Regions from separate parts of the Homo sapiens genome. Here region 1 is linked to region 2. Evidence: fine-mapped expression QTL. A gene starts in region 2. The other region holds a variant in brackets. All regions are shown on one strand. Distances are from middle to middle.

The links.
Region 1: its variant is fine-mapped to the expression of CD9 in whole blood (INTERVAL, PIP above 0.99).

The regions. Positions count from the first base shown.
Region 1 is chr12:6,137,710-6,146,035 of GRCh38, reverse strand. No RefSeq gene overlaps it. Among named protein-coding and RNA genes, the nearest start is that of VWF, 17 kb to the right of the region's middle. RefSeq lists an enhancer at 3,132-3,689. The variant G/C (reference allele first, on the strand shown) is at 3,652.
Region 2 is chr12:6,196,554-6,204,879 of GRCh38, reverse strand. CD9 (CD9 molecule) reads right to left here and starts at 4,480. Exons shown (of 8, transcript NM_001769.4): 1 at 4,315-4,480. The coding sequence starts at 4,380. RefSeq lists enhancers at 1,933-2,544, 2,545-3,157, 4,384-4,995, 4,996-5,608.

The DNA.
Region 1 (8,326 bases), 59 kb after region 2:
CATGATGGTCAGGCTGGTCTCGAACTCCTGACCTCAGGTGATCTGCCTGCCTCAGCCTCCCAAAGTGTTGGGATTAGAGGCATGAGCCGCTGCACCTGGCCAGAAAAAAATCTTTAATCCTGCAGCTGAGGAGTGGAGATGGGAGCCCAGTCTCAAACCCATCTCCCTGACCTACAAAAAGTAAGGGTTTATGTAGCAGGGAAGAAATGTAACAATGCCTACGAAAACAGGAACTAGGGAGGGGCAAGGAAACAATCATGATGAATGAGGGGTCTGGGCATTTCCTTGTCTGGATGTGGTGATCTGGTGAGTTTCAGTTCTTTGATACTTTTTTTTAGAGGCCTGAAGGTCTTTTCCTGAGGAGGGAACTCAGATAAAACAAATTAAGTTTTTCAAGCTTTAAGACTAGAAAAAAGGCCGGGCGTGGTGGCTTTAAGACTAGAAAAAAGGCCGGGCGCGGTGGCTCACGCCTGTAATCCCAGCACTTTGGGAGGCCGAGGCAGGAGGATCACGAGGTCAGGGATCGAGACCACCCTGGCAAAGACGGTGAAACCCCATCTCTACTAAAAATACAAACAATTACCCGGGCGTGGTGGCAGGCGCCTGTAATCCCAGCTACTCGGGAGGCTGAGGCAGGAGAATGGCGTGAACCCGGGAGGCGGAGCTTGCAGTGAGCTGAGATCGCGCCTCTGCCCTCCAGCCTGGGCGACAGAGCGAGACTCCGTCTCAAAAAAAGAAAAAAAAAAAAAAAAAAAGACTAGAAAACAAAGACTAGAAAAGTCAATTTCGATGCTTATCCAAAAAAAAAAAAAAAACCTATCTATGGGATGATTGGGTCGGTTTCATTATAAACACAACCACACTCCTCTCATAGTCCCTCAGCCTCTCCCCTGTCCCTAGCCCTAATCTGTTCTCCATTTCTGTAATTTATATAAATGAAATTATACAGGATATAACCTTTGGGGATTGGCTGTTTTTCACTCAGCATAATTCCCTGGAGATTCATCCACGTTGCGTGTATCAGTAATTTGTTCTCTTTTTTTTTTTTTGAGACGGAGTCTCCGTCTGTCGCCCAGGCTGGAGTGCAGTGACGCGATCTCGGCTCACTGCAAGCTCCGCCTCCCGGGTTCACGCCATTCTCCTGCCTCAGCCTCCCGAGTAGCTGGGACTACAGGCGCCCGCCACCACGCCCAGCTAATTTTTTATAGTTTTAGTAGAGACGGGGTTTCACCGTGTTAGCCAGAATGGTCTGGATTTCCTGACCTCGTGACCCGCCCGCCTCGGCCTCCCAAAGTGCTGGGATTACAAGCATGAGCCACCGCGCCCAGCCTCTTCCAGTTTTTGTCATTGCAAATAAAGCTTCTGTGAACATTTGGCCGGGCGCGGTGGCTCACGCCTGTAATCCCAACACTTTGAGAGGCCGAGGCGGGCGGATCACGAGGCTAGGAGATCGAGACCATCCTGGCTAACACGGTGAAAACCCGTGTCTACTAAAAATACAAAAAATTAGCCGGGCATGGTGGTGGCGGGTGCCTGTAGTCCCAGCTACGCAGGAGGCTGAGGCAGGAGAATGGCATGAACCGAGATCGCGCCACTGCACTCCAGCCTGGGTGACAGAGCGAGATTCTCTCTCAAAAAAAAAAAAAAAAACCTTCTGTGAACATTCACGTACAATATTTAACATGAAACTATTTAGATTTCTCTGGCATAAATGCCCAAAAATGCAATAATAGGGTTTAACCATTGTTTTTTGTTTTTGTTTGAGACAGAGTCTCACTCAGTCACCCGTTCTGGAGTGTAGTGGCACTATCTTGGCTCACTGCAACCTCCGCCTCCCAGGTTCAAGCAGTTCTCCTTCCTCAGCCTCCCAAGTAGCTGGGATTACAGGTGCACGCCAAAATGCCTAGCTAATTTTTTTTTTTTTGTATTTTTAGTAGAGATGGGGTTTTACCATGTTGGCCAGGCTTGTCTCGAACTCCTGACCTCAAGTGATCCGCCCACCTCGGCCTGCCAAAGTGCTGGGATTACAGGTGTGAGCCACCGGGCCAGCCCGTTTGTTTGCTTTTTGAGACAGGGTCTTACTCTGTTGTCCAGGCTGGAATGCAGTGGTGCTGAGGTAGGAGGCAGGATCTTACTCTGGACCAGATTGAAGATTGGCTGAAACAGGGAAGAGGCGGGGAAAACACCTCTCCATGACATGCCCACCAGTTGGCTGGGCATGGTGGCTCCCGCCTGTAATCGTAGCACTTTGGGAGGTAGAGGTGGGCGGACCACTTGAGGTCAAGAGTTTGAGACCAGCCTGGCCAACATGGTGAAACCCCATCTCTACTAAAAATACAAAAATTAGTAGGGCGTGGTGGTGGGCACCTGTAATCCCAGCTACTCAGGAGGCCGAGGCCAGAGAATCACTTGAACCTGGGAGACAGATGTTGCAGTGAGCTGAGATTGCACCATTGCACTCTAGCCTATGAGACAGAGCAAGACTCCAGCTGGGGGGGGGGGGGGGGGGGAAAGACCTGACAACCAATTCCATGTCAGTTTACCATTGCCATGGCAACACACAGAAGTTACCACCTCTTTTCATGGCAACCACGTGAAAGTTACCACCATTTTTCTAGAAATTTCTGAATAACCCATACTGCGTCTGGAATTGGTGGGTTCTTGGTCTCACTGACTTCAAGAATGAAGCCACAGACCCTCGTAGTTAACAGCTCTTAAAGTGGCACATCTGGAGTCTGTGTCTTCTGACTTTCAGATGTGTTCAGAGTTTCTTCCTTCTGGTGGGTTCATGATCTCCCTGGCTCAGGATTGAAGCTGCAGACCTTTGCGGTGGGCGTTACCACTCTTAAGGCAGTGCATCTGGAGTTGTTCGTTCCTCCCGGTGGGCTCGTGGTTTTGCTGGCCTCAGGAGTGAAGCTGCAGATCTTCACGGTGAGAGTTACAGATCTTAAAAGCAGTGTGCACCCAGAGTGAGCAATAGCAAGATTTATTGCAAAGAGCAAAAGAACGAAGCCTTCACACTGTGGAAGGGGACCGGAGCGGGTTGCCAATGCTGGCTCCGGCAGCCTGCTTTTATTCTCTTATCTGGCCCCACCCACATGCTGCTGATTGGTAGAGCCGAGTGGCCTGTTTTAACAGGGCGCTGATTGGTGCGTTTACAATCCTTGAGCTAGATACAAAGGTTCTCCACGTCCCCATCAGATTAGTTAGATACAGAGTTTCCACACAGAGGTTGTCCAAGGCCCCAGCAGAGCAGCTAGATACAGAGTGTCGATTGGTGCACTCACAAATCTTGAGCTAGACACAGGGTGCTGATTGGTGTGTTTACAATCCCTGAGCTAGATATAAAAACTCTCCACGTCCCCACCAGACTCAGGAGCCCAGCTGGCTTCACCTAGTGGATCCCGCACCTGGGGCTGCAGGTGGAGCTGCCTGCCAGTCCCGCGCTGTGCGCTCTCATTCCTCAGCTCTTGGGTGGTCGATGGGACTGGGCGCCGTGGAGCAGGGGGTGGTGCTCGTCGGGGAGGCTTGGGCCACACGGGAGCCCATGGAGTGGGTGGGAGGCTCAGGCATGGCAGGCTGCAGGTCCCGAGCCCTGCCCCGCGGGAAGGCAGCTAAGGCCCGGCGAGAAATCGAGCGCAGCGCCGGTGG[G/C]CCAGCACTGCTGGGGGACCCAGTACACCCTCCACAGCTGCTGGCCCGGGTGCTAAGTCCCTCATTGCCCGGGGCCAGCAGGGCTGGCCGGCTGCTCTGAGTGTGGGGCCCGCCAAGCCCACGCCCACCCGGAACTCCAGCTGACTCGCAAGCGCGGCACGCAGCCCTGCTTCCTGCTCGCGCCTCTCCCTCCACACCTCCCTGCAAGCTGAGGGAGCGGGCTCCAGCCTTGGCCAGCCCAGAAAGTGGCTCCCACAGTGCAGTGGGGGGCTGAAGGGCTCCTCAAATGCCGCCAAAGTGGGAGCCCAGGCAGGGGAGGTGCTGAGAGCAAGCAAGGGCTCTGAGGACTGCCAGCACGCTGTCACCTCTCAATACCTTAACTTGCAAGTAATTGAAAGTGGGTATATGTATGACTGTTGACCTGCCCCTGAGCTGGTGCTCTCAACACATTGCCTAGGGGTTAGCCCTGCTCTGCAGGAGTAGTCATAAAGTTGTCACACTGCTGCCTCCATAAAGCTGTTTTCTTCTACCACCAGCTGGCTCTTGAATTCTTTCCTGAGCAAAGCCAAGAATCTTCCAGGGCTAAGTCCCAATTTGGGAGCTTACTTGCCCTGCATCAGTGCAATCATAGCTCACTGCAGCCTGGAACTTCGGGGCTCAAGCAATCCTCCTGCCTGAGCCTCCTGAATAGCTAAGATGACAGATGTGTGCCACTACACCTGGCTAATTTTTTCTTTTTTTTGTAGACATGAGGTCTCACTTTGTTGCCTAGGCTGATCATTGTTTTTAAAATTTCTATCTTTACTGATTTTTATCTGCCTGACCTATGGATAATTGAGAAAGCCTTTTTGAAGTCAATTGTCAATTTATGTATTTTGAAGCTATTTTGTAAGATGCATATAAATTTGAGTTGCTGTAACTTTCTGCCTCTCAAATTAGAACCCCAGGTCTTGAGATAGTGATTCTGGGGTCAGGAATCCTGCTGTGCTACTACTGGGGCCAGGAATGCCACCAGATGTAATGGTCTGAGTTCTCTGTAGCTCGATAGCAGCAATAATGTGGTGTCATTGTTCCTGAGAACCAGGGAAGATGAGTCTGAAGCTGCACCATTCTTCTGACATTGTAGCGTGGGTGGGTCCTCTCTATTTTGATGATTGTGAAGGAAGTGAGCATGTTATTCTTGCACAAGATGTTTGTCTTTAGAAGAGAGGAAGTAGAGGAGGACAGCTTCCTCTCCGCTGGGGGCTACAGCTTTATGCTGGGAGCTGGTCGTCTGGCCTAAGAAATACTGCTGTGTTTATTTATTTGGCGCATACTGCCAAGAAAATTCTCTTTCCTGCAGAATTTACGTAAGAGAGATGCTACAAATATACAAAGAAAAGACAAAGATGGGTCCTCCTAGAAAACCTTTCCTCCCCTGAGGTTCTTTTGCTTTTGTACTAGTTACCTGGAGAACTTACTCCTCAGACAGGCAGAGGTCAATTTACCCATCCCCCTGCCTCTGAGCAGCCCTGCCCCATGCGCCCCCAGAGGTCACGCACCCTTCCCATTTGTACTTAATGCTGTTTACATCAGCCCAAGTTCTAATGGCTCTCATACTGTGGTCCTCAGGGATCCTTCTTCCTTGAGCCTCACAGCACTAATTGTCCTCTAACTTATTTGGCAAAGCTGCCTTGGGACACCCTCCATGAGGGCAAGGGAGCAGGTTGTGTGGCATGATATCTTGGCCTATATTAGTTTTCTATTGCTGCAGTGACAAATGACCACAAGCTTAGTGGCCTGAAACAACACAAATTTATCTTACAATTCGTAATTGTAAGAAGCTCGAATTGGATCAAAATCAAGGTGTGTTGGAAGAGCTGGATTCCTTCTGTAGGTTCTATGGGAGAACCTGTTCTTCGCCTCTATCCACTTCCAGGGGCACACATTCCTTGCCTCGTGGCCCCGCGTTGCATGACCTCTGCTCGCATCATCACATCTCCTTCCCTGATGCTGACCCTCCTGCTCCTCTTATAAAAACTCTTGTGATTATATCGGCCCAGCAGGATACTCTGGGGTAAGCCAGGATCATCTCCCCATCTCAAGACCCTTAACTTGCTCACATCTGCAAAATCCCTTTTGCCATGTAAGGTAGCATTCAGAGGTTTGAGATGGGATGTAGACATCTTTGGCTGTTCTTCTGCTACCGTAATGTGTTACGTGGTTGGCTGTATCTGCTCTTCTCTTGTCAAACCCATGGTCTCCTCCAGGCCCTCGTCTTCCCTGTCCGGGAAGGTTCCACCAACCACTAATGGATCTCCCTTTCTCCATCTGACCTCTCACAATACATGCCACTGCTGCCAGAGGGCCTCATCTGGTGTCACAGGATGAACATAAACCCCTACACTGGTTGAAGGTCCCTGAGGACTTGCCTCTTATTCCTCTCTTTGGTCTCTTTTCCTGTGAGTCTCCTTTATAGGCTGTAACAACTGGCTTATTCACCTACTTACTGATTTAGCATCTCAGAGCTTGCCTGCTTCTAAGCTTTTACTTCCTTCCTTGCAGCTGATGTGCCTTTGCCCTCATTTTCACCTGGCAAAATCCTACTCAGCAAATGGGTAATTAAACCATTGCAACCATTATAAACCATTGCAATTTTTCAGGGGGGCCATTTGGCCTTATTGTCAAAGGCCTCACTGAAAATGTGGACGGTGGCTGACCCAGTGCTCCACATGTAGGATTTCATCCTGTGGGAGTAATCCTGAGGGTTGTGCATGGATATAGCTTCAAAGATGTTCACTGCAGCATTGTTAATTAAAAAAAAAAAAAAGTAGGCCGGGAGTGGTGGCTCACGCCTGTAATCCCAGCACTTTGGGAGGCAGAGGCGGGCGGATCACGAGGTCAGGAGATTGAGGCCATCCTGGTTAACGCGGTGAAACCCTGTCTCTACTAAAAATACAAAAAATTAGCCGGGTGTAGTGGCGGGTGCCTGTAGTCCCAGCTACTCGGGAGGCTGAGGCAGGAGAATGGCATGAACCCAGGAGGTGGAGCTTGCAGTGAGCCGAGATTGCGCCACTGCACTCCAGCCTGGGTGACAGAGCGAGACTGCATCTCAAAAAAAAAAAAAAAAAAAAAAAAGTAGCACTAACCTAAATAAATATCCCATAATATGGAACTGGTTACATAAATTGTGGAATATCAGTAAGTGAACTATTCCAGCCAAGTGTGTTATACTCTGATAAAACAGACACTTGAGTGTTATTTAGAAATAGTGCCAGAGTGTCATATGAGTTACAGGCGCAGAATACCACATGGGAACGTGACCCCAGTCTGATGTCCCTGCCCCCTTGCAGAGCCATCCTGTGACTTTCACCGTGCAATTTCCCCAACCACAGTGACGAGTGCTATCTTCTGTGCTGATGATTTGGAGAGCAGGCAACAACTTCCTTGGGTATTAAGCAATTTTTTTTATCTGCAGTTTCAGTTCTGTAGCTACATTTTAATATTATATGCTAATTAACCCACATCATTGTTCTACTAGCAGGGAGTTCAACAGACATTTATGGAGCACTTACCATGTGCTATGCTCCAGACAGAGCACTTTGGAAGATACAGAGATGAGTAAGGCAAGGTCTTGTTCTAAGGAGAGCTCAGACTGGAGGAGATAAGACAAACAAAAATGCATGAAAAGGCTGGGAGCGGTGGCTCATGCCCATAATCCTAACACTTTGGGAGGACGAGGCGGGCAGATCACGAGGTCAGGAGATCAAGACCATCCTGGTAACACGGTGAAACCTCGTCTCTACTAAAAATATAAAAACAAAAAATTAGCTGAGTGTGGCGGTGGGCGTCTGTAGTCCCAGCTACTCGGGAGGCTGAGGTGGGAGAATGGCGTGAACCAGGGAGGCAGAGGTTGCAGTGAACCAAGATCGCGCCATTGCACTCCAGCCTGGGCAACAGAGCGAGACTCCGTCTCAAAAAAAAGAAAAATGCATGAAAAGATGAGAGGGCCACAGAAGCACCCAGAGGTGGTTCAAAGGCAGGAAAAGCGGGGGTGAAGGGTGGGAGGAAAGGAGAAAAGGCTTATGGAAGAGTTATAGGTATAGTGGAGAAAACACGGACTTTGTAATCAGGTAGATTCAGATGCTGGCTGCCTTTGGTAGCAGTGTGATCCTAGGCAAGGCCCTTACCCTGTCTGAGCCTCAGCATCCTCAACTATAAAATGAGAGTAACGCTCTCTTTCCCTCAAACGGTTGTTAGAAGGTACAGTGGATTGAATGGTGACCCCCAAAAGACATGTCCACATTCTAACTCCTGGACCCTGTGAATGTGACCTTACTTGGAAAAAGGCTTTTTGCAGATGTAATTAAGGATGTCAAGATAGATCACCCTAGATTACTAGATCCTTAGGCGGGGTGTGGTGGCTCACGCCTGTAATCCCAGCACTTTGGGAGGCCGAAGTGGGCAGATCACTTGAGGCCAGGAGTTTGAGACCAGACTGGCTAACATGGCAAAACCCTGTCTACTAAAAATACCAAAAAAAAAAAAAAAAAAAAAAAAGGCTGGGTGTGGTGGTGGTGCCTGTAATCCCAGCTACTCGGGAGGCTGAGGCAGGAGAATCACTTGAACCTCGGAGGTGAAGGCTGCAGTGAGTCAAGATTGTGCCACTGCAATCCAGCCTGGGTGATAGAGTGAG
Region 2 (8,326 bases):
GGGCAGGGAGGCCAGTGTGTGGATTGGGAGGGTCCTCCTGGCCACATCTGCGGTTTAGACTTCCACACTTCTTAGAGAACTGCTCTCACCCTCCCCAGGGCCTCATTCTACTCTCCACTAGTGAATAACAATAGCTACTGTTGGAAGATATGTCTGGTGCAATCTACTATGCTAAGTGCACTACACATACTCCCCATTTAACTCTCACAGCACCATGTGGGGTGGTCACCAGCCCCATCTGGTGATGAGACATGGAACCCAGGACTGGTGCTTTGATCACTAGGCCAAGTACTAAGGTATACGGGCAATGAACACCCCTGAGAGAGACCCCACCCAGGGTGAGGAGAGGGAACTGAGAAGCAACAGCAAAGAAAAGCACCAGCTGGGCTCTTGCTCCAGAGGTAAAGGCCAAGAAAAGCTAAGTTCTGAGGACTCAAGCCTTGGTATCCATCTCCCATTTCCAATTCAGGGCTTGTATTTTGTTTATTATATTATTATTTATAGATTTAGGGGACACGAATGTAGTTTTGTTACACATGGTGAAGTCTGGGCTTTTAATGTGACCATCACCAACATAGTATACATCGTACCCAATATTGGTTCCTATTTTGGGTTGTGTAGGAGAGTTCTATTGTTGTATGTGGTATGTGTAGGGGTGTTGGGTTCATAGACTGAGCTTGAAAGGACCTTTTGAGACCATTTGTTCCAAGCTATTGTTTTACAGATGAGGAAACTGAGGCTTAGAGCACAGAAGTGACCAACCCAAGGTTTCAAAGTGAGTTGAGGACAGAGCTGGGCTCACATCCAGGTCTCTGAATTCCCAGTGTAGGTCTCTGTGTTTCGCACCAGCCTCCCCTAGGTCTAGGGGATATGGTTTCTTGGGAAAGAGACCTCCCAGCCCCACACTGCTGTTTCCATCAGTGAGCGAGGCATGAGAGACAGTAAGCAAAGGGGCTGAGGGAGGTGGGGAGGGGATTGGGCTCTGTCAGTATAGCCAAACCTTTCCCTCTTTTGCCCTAAGGAGTTCCTCCCCTTCTCTGACCAGAAAGAGGGCAGACATGCATGTGTCAGACTGGACTGGCCCTAACCCTGGTTCCCCATTTCAGCTGGAGAAATACTTGTGTGTCTACCACATGGACATCAGCAAGATGTTTTCCCTCTCAACTGTTTTTTGGGGGGTGGGCAGGCGGGCAGGGAGGTCTGAAGGAAATGTAGAAACAATCAAAATAGAGCTAGGAGGGCCGGTTCTGGAGGTGGTGGAAGAACAGACTGATTTGCTGGTTTGGCTGTGGCCATCAGGGAGTGACCCACAGGGATGAGATCAGGCCAGGGAAGAGGCACAGCCCCCCAATAACCATCCTACTCCACTGAGGTTGGCCTCTCTCTGGATGCCTGTTGGACACCCCCTCTCAGCAGCCTCTGTGCAAAGTGCTGCTGGGCACTGGCCTCACAATTCCTGCTTTTCAAGGCCCACATCAGGTTCCGAATGCCAAGTTTATAAATGTCTGGTCTCAAGAGAGAAACGGACGTGGTGACAACATAATCACCCAAGCAGTTCCCTTAGGTTACACCTTTCCTTAAGGGAGTCTTGGGAGCTTCTTCCCACCCTTCTCCCATTCCCACTCAGCAGCCAAAACCAGTTGGGTAAAGTAACCTAGTTCTGAGACCACCCTGCCGCATCACCTTGGATAAGTCACCTAACCTCTCTGGGAAATGGTTTCCTGATCATCAGTACAGTGGGGACAATGCTTCCTGCTCTTGGCTACATCATGGGACTAGAACAAGAAAGGCTCTAAAGACTAACACTCTGCACAAGTGGACCGACCACAGTCTTCCTTTTCATTACATCATCTCCTAGGGATGAGGGCTTCATCTCCACAGGGACCCAGATACAGGACAAATGAACAGTAATTCAGGAAAACATAGCTACTGCCCATCTTCCTGCCTCTGATGAAGATGGAAGAGGACAGAAGTAAAGTAGGGGCCCCAGGAATTGTAATACTGGCTCTGTCTCTGCGATCCTGGGTAAATCACCCCATCTCTCTTCCTCTGCTGCCTCACTATGAATAAGAGAGCTGGACTGCATGATCTTCAAAAGTCATTCCAAACATTTCCAGTGTGAGTGATTTCTGTTTCAGACTACATAGGTCATCAGCTGCACCTAGGCTGGGGCCAGGCATAGGGGGTTCTGAATACGAGTGGGGTGGCAGGCTGAGGACAGTACGGACAGATTGCAGGCCAGCAGGCCACAGACAGAGTAGATACCAGTGGCCCTGTGAGCCTCGCATCAGCTTCCTGCATATGCCATGGGGCAGATGGGGGTAGGGAGGCACACTGTGGCAGTCTGTGTTTCCCTGCAGTCCCAAACCTGGATGCAGTCTAGGCAGACAGCTGAGGACTAACCAACACACCAGCCGGGAGAGACTGTACCTGGGAGGGGAGAGGAAAACTCCCAAAGTTCAAGGGTGGGTGAGGCCAGCTGCCTTCCCGCATACTTTTCTGCTGCCAGGGATTGGTGAAAGAAAGAAGCTAAGCGTGGCAGCTGGGTGGTTGCTGGGGTGGGTGGCAACACAGGAGGAGGGGTGCCCACGGCCAGCAGGGTCTTTTTAAAGCAAGTCAAGGGTTGGGAAGGAGCACACCTATATGCCGTCCTCACTGGGGTGTGTGTTATGGTGACTGATGCACTGGGGGAAGTCAGTCTCTGCAAATTGGAAAAACTGTTCAACCACCCCTTCAGCTCTGGGGAGGAGTGAATCTTAGAAGATTTCCCTAAGGAGGCTTGTGGGGACCTCAGTGACCAGCTCCAGGGGGAATAAGTGCATTTGTTTCTTTTCTACTTTTTTTGAGACAGGGCTCACTAGGTCACCCAGGCTAAGTGCAGTGGTGCAATCATGACTCACCGCAGCCTTGACCTCCCAGGCTCATGCCATCCTCTCATCTCAGCCTCCTGAGTAGCTGCGATCACAGGTGCATGCCAACACGCCCAGCTAATTTTTTATTTTTTTGTGGAGATGGGGGTCTCACTATGTTACCCAGGCTGGTCTTGAACCTGGATGAAAGCGATCCTCCTGCCTCAGCCTCCCAAAGTGCTGGGATTACAGGCATGAGCCACTGTGCCTGGCCAAGTGCACTTTTTTGTTACAAGACTCTGGTGGCATGCACCTGTTTCTACATCCATCTATCTTGAGAGTGGCATAGAGACTCTCTTCCTGCCTGCAGAGCGGCAAGTATTGTCATGTGTGTGCAGGGAATGTGGCTATAGAAACAAGGACACAAGGGTTTCCTATTCCTTGCTTCTGTCGCCTCTCAGCCTTCCCATTTGTAGAGGCTGAGTGGCCTGCAGCAGGTGTCTCTGGAGCTCCTGGCCCCGCTGGCCTCTCCAGATGAACGTCCGCTCTGCGCCCTGCCTGGCCTTGGGTGGGCCGCCTGGGCTGGCGGGGAGGGGAGAGGGCAAGGCCAAGGCTCTCCTGGGCGGGCAGCTGGCTGGCACCTGATCTCTCCCGGAAATGCACACACAGGACTCATCCCACTAGAGGCGCAGATAGGTATCTGCCCCCTCCTCTCCCGAACTCTGAGTTCTCTCCAGTGAAGATACTTATCGTCCTTGAAAGAAATCAAGACAAGCTAGTCTTTCAGGGAGCTACCAGGGAGTTCGGCGCTCTCACGGTGGCTCAGAATCAAAGTCTGAGGGAACGGGGGCCTGCGAGGTTCCTCCTCAAGGGTGGAGGGGCCCCCGACTCTCAGGGACTGGGTCCCGGGGCCGGACCCGCGGCCGAGGCACCCCTGCCGCTCCTGCGTAAAAGTGAGAGCCGCTCTTGGCTGAGCTCTCGCCGTGCCCGCACCCTCCCTTCCTGGCGCCCCCTACTACCTGGGAGACCCCACCCGGTCACAAGCCATACTGCTCACCACAGTCCTCCTTGGCCTTGGCCCAAAGAGGGGTGCTCCGCTTCTCCCTGCCTTCCTCTCTGGCACTCGGAGGGACTTGAGCTGGGAGCAGACACACACCCCAGCTCAAATCCTAGGCGAGCTAAAGTGCTCAGGACCCTCCCGCACGCCTCATCTCAAGAGGGCCCGGCTCCCCACGCCGGCTGGGCGGTGATGAGCCCCCACCCGAATGCGCCCGTCGCGGCCGTCCCGCCCGGCTCTGGACCCGGCCTTGGAGCCAGCTGGCAGCCGCAGGGCGCTCTCTCTTCCCGCCCGGTGCCTGCCCGGTGCGGGCAGTGCCAGCTGCCGGCACTCGCGGCCGCGGCCAGTGTCCGGGGCCCGCGAACAGGTGGGCCCTGAGAGGAGCGCGCGGCAGTCGCGCTCACTCACCCAGAAGATGAAGTTAAATCCGAACAGCAGGTATTTGATGCACTTGGTGCCTCCTTTGACCGGCATGGTGAGGGCTAACTTAGCCTGGGCCGAACGGGTGCGGGACTGGGGGGCGCGCGCAGCTGGGACTGGCGGGACCTGGCGCTGGATACAGATGCAGGCGGCTGTAGGCTGGTCTCCGGCTGCACTTTTAAAAAGTGCCACTCCTTAGGGCGCGCGACCCGCTGCGGTGCGCATGTGCCGGGAAAAGCCGCCCCCACTCCCCCCGCCGGCCACGCCTCCCGCCCCACCGGCCCCGCCCGGGCCGCACCCCCCCCGCCCCCCGCCCCCGCCCAGGTCGGCGAGCCCCGGCCCCAGCTGCCCCGCGGAGCCCGACCCTCTCCCTGTTTCCCCGCCTAGTCGCCCTAACCCCCACCCGCCACCCACTCCTTCTTCAAGCCGTCTTGGGGTCTTTGCAGGCAGCCACTCCCTGCCACTTTTACCGCGGACTTACGTGGAGGCCTCGCCCTTCCGGTTCCCCCGCGTTTGGTCTGGGCGCCGGACCGGGCGTTCTGCTTTGGGAGACTCTTCCCCGGGTCGTCAGGGCTAAAGGCCCCTTGGCCAAGGCCTGCTGCCAGAGTGAGGGGCCCTTCTGCTTTGCGAGGATTTAAAGGGAAGCCGCCTGGCTTAATTTCGCCCTCGTCTGTCTCCTTGCAAACCTTCGCTCGCTGACCATACTTTTCATTGGGCACAGCATGTGGGGTAGGAGGAATTAGAAGCGCGCAGTCTGGGTGGGATGACAGATGGGAGGCTTTTGGAAGTAATTAGCAAATACCTATCACCGAATAATAACACAGCTGAGGGCTGGGCAGTCCCCAAGCGCTTCCTGCACTTGAGGTTTAGTTGCCCCAGAGGGAAAAAGGGTCTGTAGACGGCTTCTGTTTTCTCTCTACTCCTCCACCCCACCCTCCCTCCTGCGTCTTTGGACTTGCTCGCTGCTGCCTTGAACTGCTCCAGATGCCGAGCTCGGAGCGCTTCTCCTGAGCTCACAAACTTTCTGTAGCTCTCCAGATTCAAGGACCTAAGTCGAAATTCCTCGTCTTGCCCTCAAGGCCCTGTACAGAGCACTGATCTGACTTCTCCCGGACCCAGAGCCCACCCCACTCGCTGGCCGGCATGCGCCCTGGCTGGCTGGCCCCCCCCCAACGTCACTTGTAGGAATTCTGTGGGTCTTTAAACACTCCTTTCCTGATTCTCTGGAGTGGACGAGGAGAGTCACCTTCTTTTGAAGTCCCCGAATCCCTTTGTATTATTTTCAAAATGAAGTTTCCTTTACTGTCCTTTATGATTACAAAAGCAAGATACAGTCATTACAGAAACAACCGAAATACCAAGAAGTGAAAGGAACAGACCTCAAAATTCTGCTCACCAGAAACAGCCACTGTTAGCACATTGCTGTTATTTGCCTGTTTATTATCAGTAGACTTGTCTCATTGGTTCAAAAACATTTTTCAGTATCTATTAGGGTATTTCATTAGGGGTAGGAGCTGAAAAACATGGATTAGTCCTTGTTTCTGCTCAGGGACCAGTGTGGGAGGAGACAGGCAGCCAGACAATGGTTTGAGGGTGATAGGTGCAGTTACGGGGAGAGGCTTGGGGGCTAAGAGGCTAAGGAGAGGCCTCTGACCCAGACTGGGAGATGATGCTGCAGAACCACAGGGAAAGTTGCCGCCAAGGGAGAATCCTGGGCAAAGGCTGGGGCAGGGGCTGTCCGGGCTCTGGGCTGGAGCCTGGAGTCACGGGGTAGTTTGTGGGAAGGTGAGAAAGAGCCTTGTGCTCCTGGACTTTGCACTCTGAGCATTAGGGGCCACCGAAAGGTTCAAGCAGGGGAATGGTTGGATCTGCTGTGTTTTCAGAGGTTCTCTGCCTGTGTTTTAGGTAGTTGGGTGGGGGAAGGCCGGAGGGGCAGGTAGGAAGCCCCTTGAGGACCAGGACCATTGTTGGCATCTCCAGTCCTTGGCTCAGTGCTTTACGGGATTGCATGGAACATGGAGATGTTGTATTTGGGGAGACGCAATCAGGTAATATGAGGGGAGCAGTGGTAGATGAAAGTTGAGCTGAGGACCAGGTGCAAATCTGCTAGGAGGCTGTGGAGTAGTTCAGGTGAGAGAAGAATGAATGAAGGCGGGGCAATGGGATAAAGCCTAGAGAAGGCAGGGCAAAACCCCATGAGGTGTCAGGCCGGGAAGGGGAGGGAGAGATCAGAGGCAGAGCAGCAGAAGCTAGTAACAAGTAGGGGCACAGGGCACATCCCCACGTCAATCTGAGTCCGAGAGGCTCCCCAGAGCAGGGGACATTGCAGCAGCTGACTTGACTTGGGAAGGTGGAGTCAGTAGTCAATGCGGAGGAGGGAATTCCAAGAGGGAACTGGATATGCAAAGACACAGAAGCGGGCAGCTGGCTGCACTGGGGAAACAACCGATAGTGGTACATGGGGAGGAAGGAGGACAAGGAAGGAGAGGCAGGGCCTAAACTGAGCCTAATGCCAAGAGGACAAGCAGAGGAATTTTGGTGATGCTTGACTTTACACATCCTAACCAGTGTCCAGGATGATTCCAGCACAGGGGAGGAGTGTGAAGCACCCTGGAGGGTGGGAAGGAGGCCGGAAAACAGTCAGTGTTCCATTGTGCCCTTTTGGGCCTGCGTCCATCTATCTTGGGAGACAGGTCTTAGGAAAAGAAAGATTTTATTGCATCTCCCCCTTCTCCCAAGTTAACAAGTACTGGTGGGAGGAGTTCAGTAAATATTTAAGTTTATAATAGAAATTACTTATTAGGGTAAACGTGAGTGTTGACAGAGGAAATCCACAGGGAGGCCTTAGAACCTGCCTGCCACAGAAGCGCTGCAGAAACGCTGCCTGTTGCTCCTATTCCTATTATTGTTTACACTGAAGAAAGAATTGGGGTCAGCCTATATAGTTCAGTGCCACATTCGTATAATCAAGGCATCCTTTTTATGTGATGAGAGCATTGGGCCTGAAGTGAGGGGGTCTGAGTTCTACTCTTGGTTCTGACCCTTTGGTCTATGTTAGGCAGGCAGCCTCCTCTCTGGGCCTCAGTCTCCTCACCTGTACAAGAGTATTGTGAAAGGAAAATAAATCTTAGGACCCCAAAATCAATAAGCCAAAGGAAAAAATCAAGCTGGGAACTGCCACAGGCAAACCTGCCTCCCATTCCTAAATAAGATAGCTACAAAGATTTTTTAAAAAGCTATGCACTTCTCGGCCGGGCGCAGTGGCTCACGCCTGTAATCCCAGCACTTTGGGAGGCCAAGGTGGGCGGATCACGAGGTGAGGAGATCGAGACCATCCTGGCCAACATAGTGAAACCGCATCTCTACTAAAAATACAAAAATTAGCCAGGCATGGTGGCGCATACCTATAATCCCAGCTACTCGGGAGGCAGAGGCAGGAGAATCCCTTGAACCAGGGAGTTGGAGGTTGCAGTGAGCCGAGATCGCGCCACAGCACTCTAGCCTGGCGACAGAGTGAGACTCCGTCTCAAAAAGAAAAAACAAAAAAAGCTATGCACTTCTTGTTGGGCGCTGTGACTCACACCTGTGATCCAAGCACTTTAGGAGGCCGACGCGGGAGGATCATGAGGTCAGGAGATCAAGACCATCCTGGCTAACACGGTGAAACCTCGTCTCTACTAAAAATACAAAAAAATTAGCCGGGCGTGGCGGCGGGCGCCTGTAGTCCCAGCTACTCAGGAGGCTGAGGCAGGAGAATGGCGTGAACCCGGGAGGCAGAGCTTGCAGTGAGCCGAGATCGCGCCACTGCCCTCCAGCCTGGGGGACACAGCCAGACTCCGTCTCAAAAAAAAAAAAAAAAAAAAAAGCAGCTATGCACTTCTTTCACAATTTGCCCATGAGGAAATTTCTGGTGGACCCTATGATATTTGCCCTAAAACAGTTCTGTTGAATTTCACCATGACAATGTAAATTGATAGCATATCTTCACAGGTACAGAAAA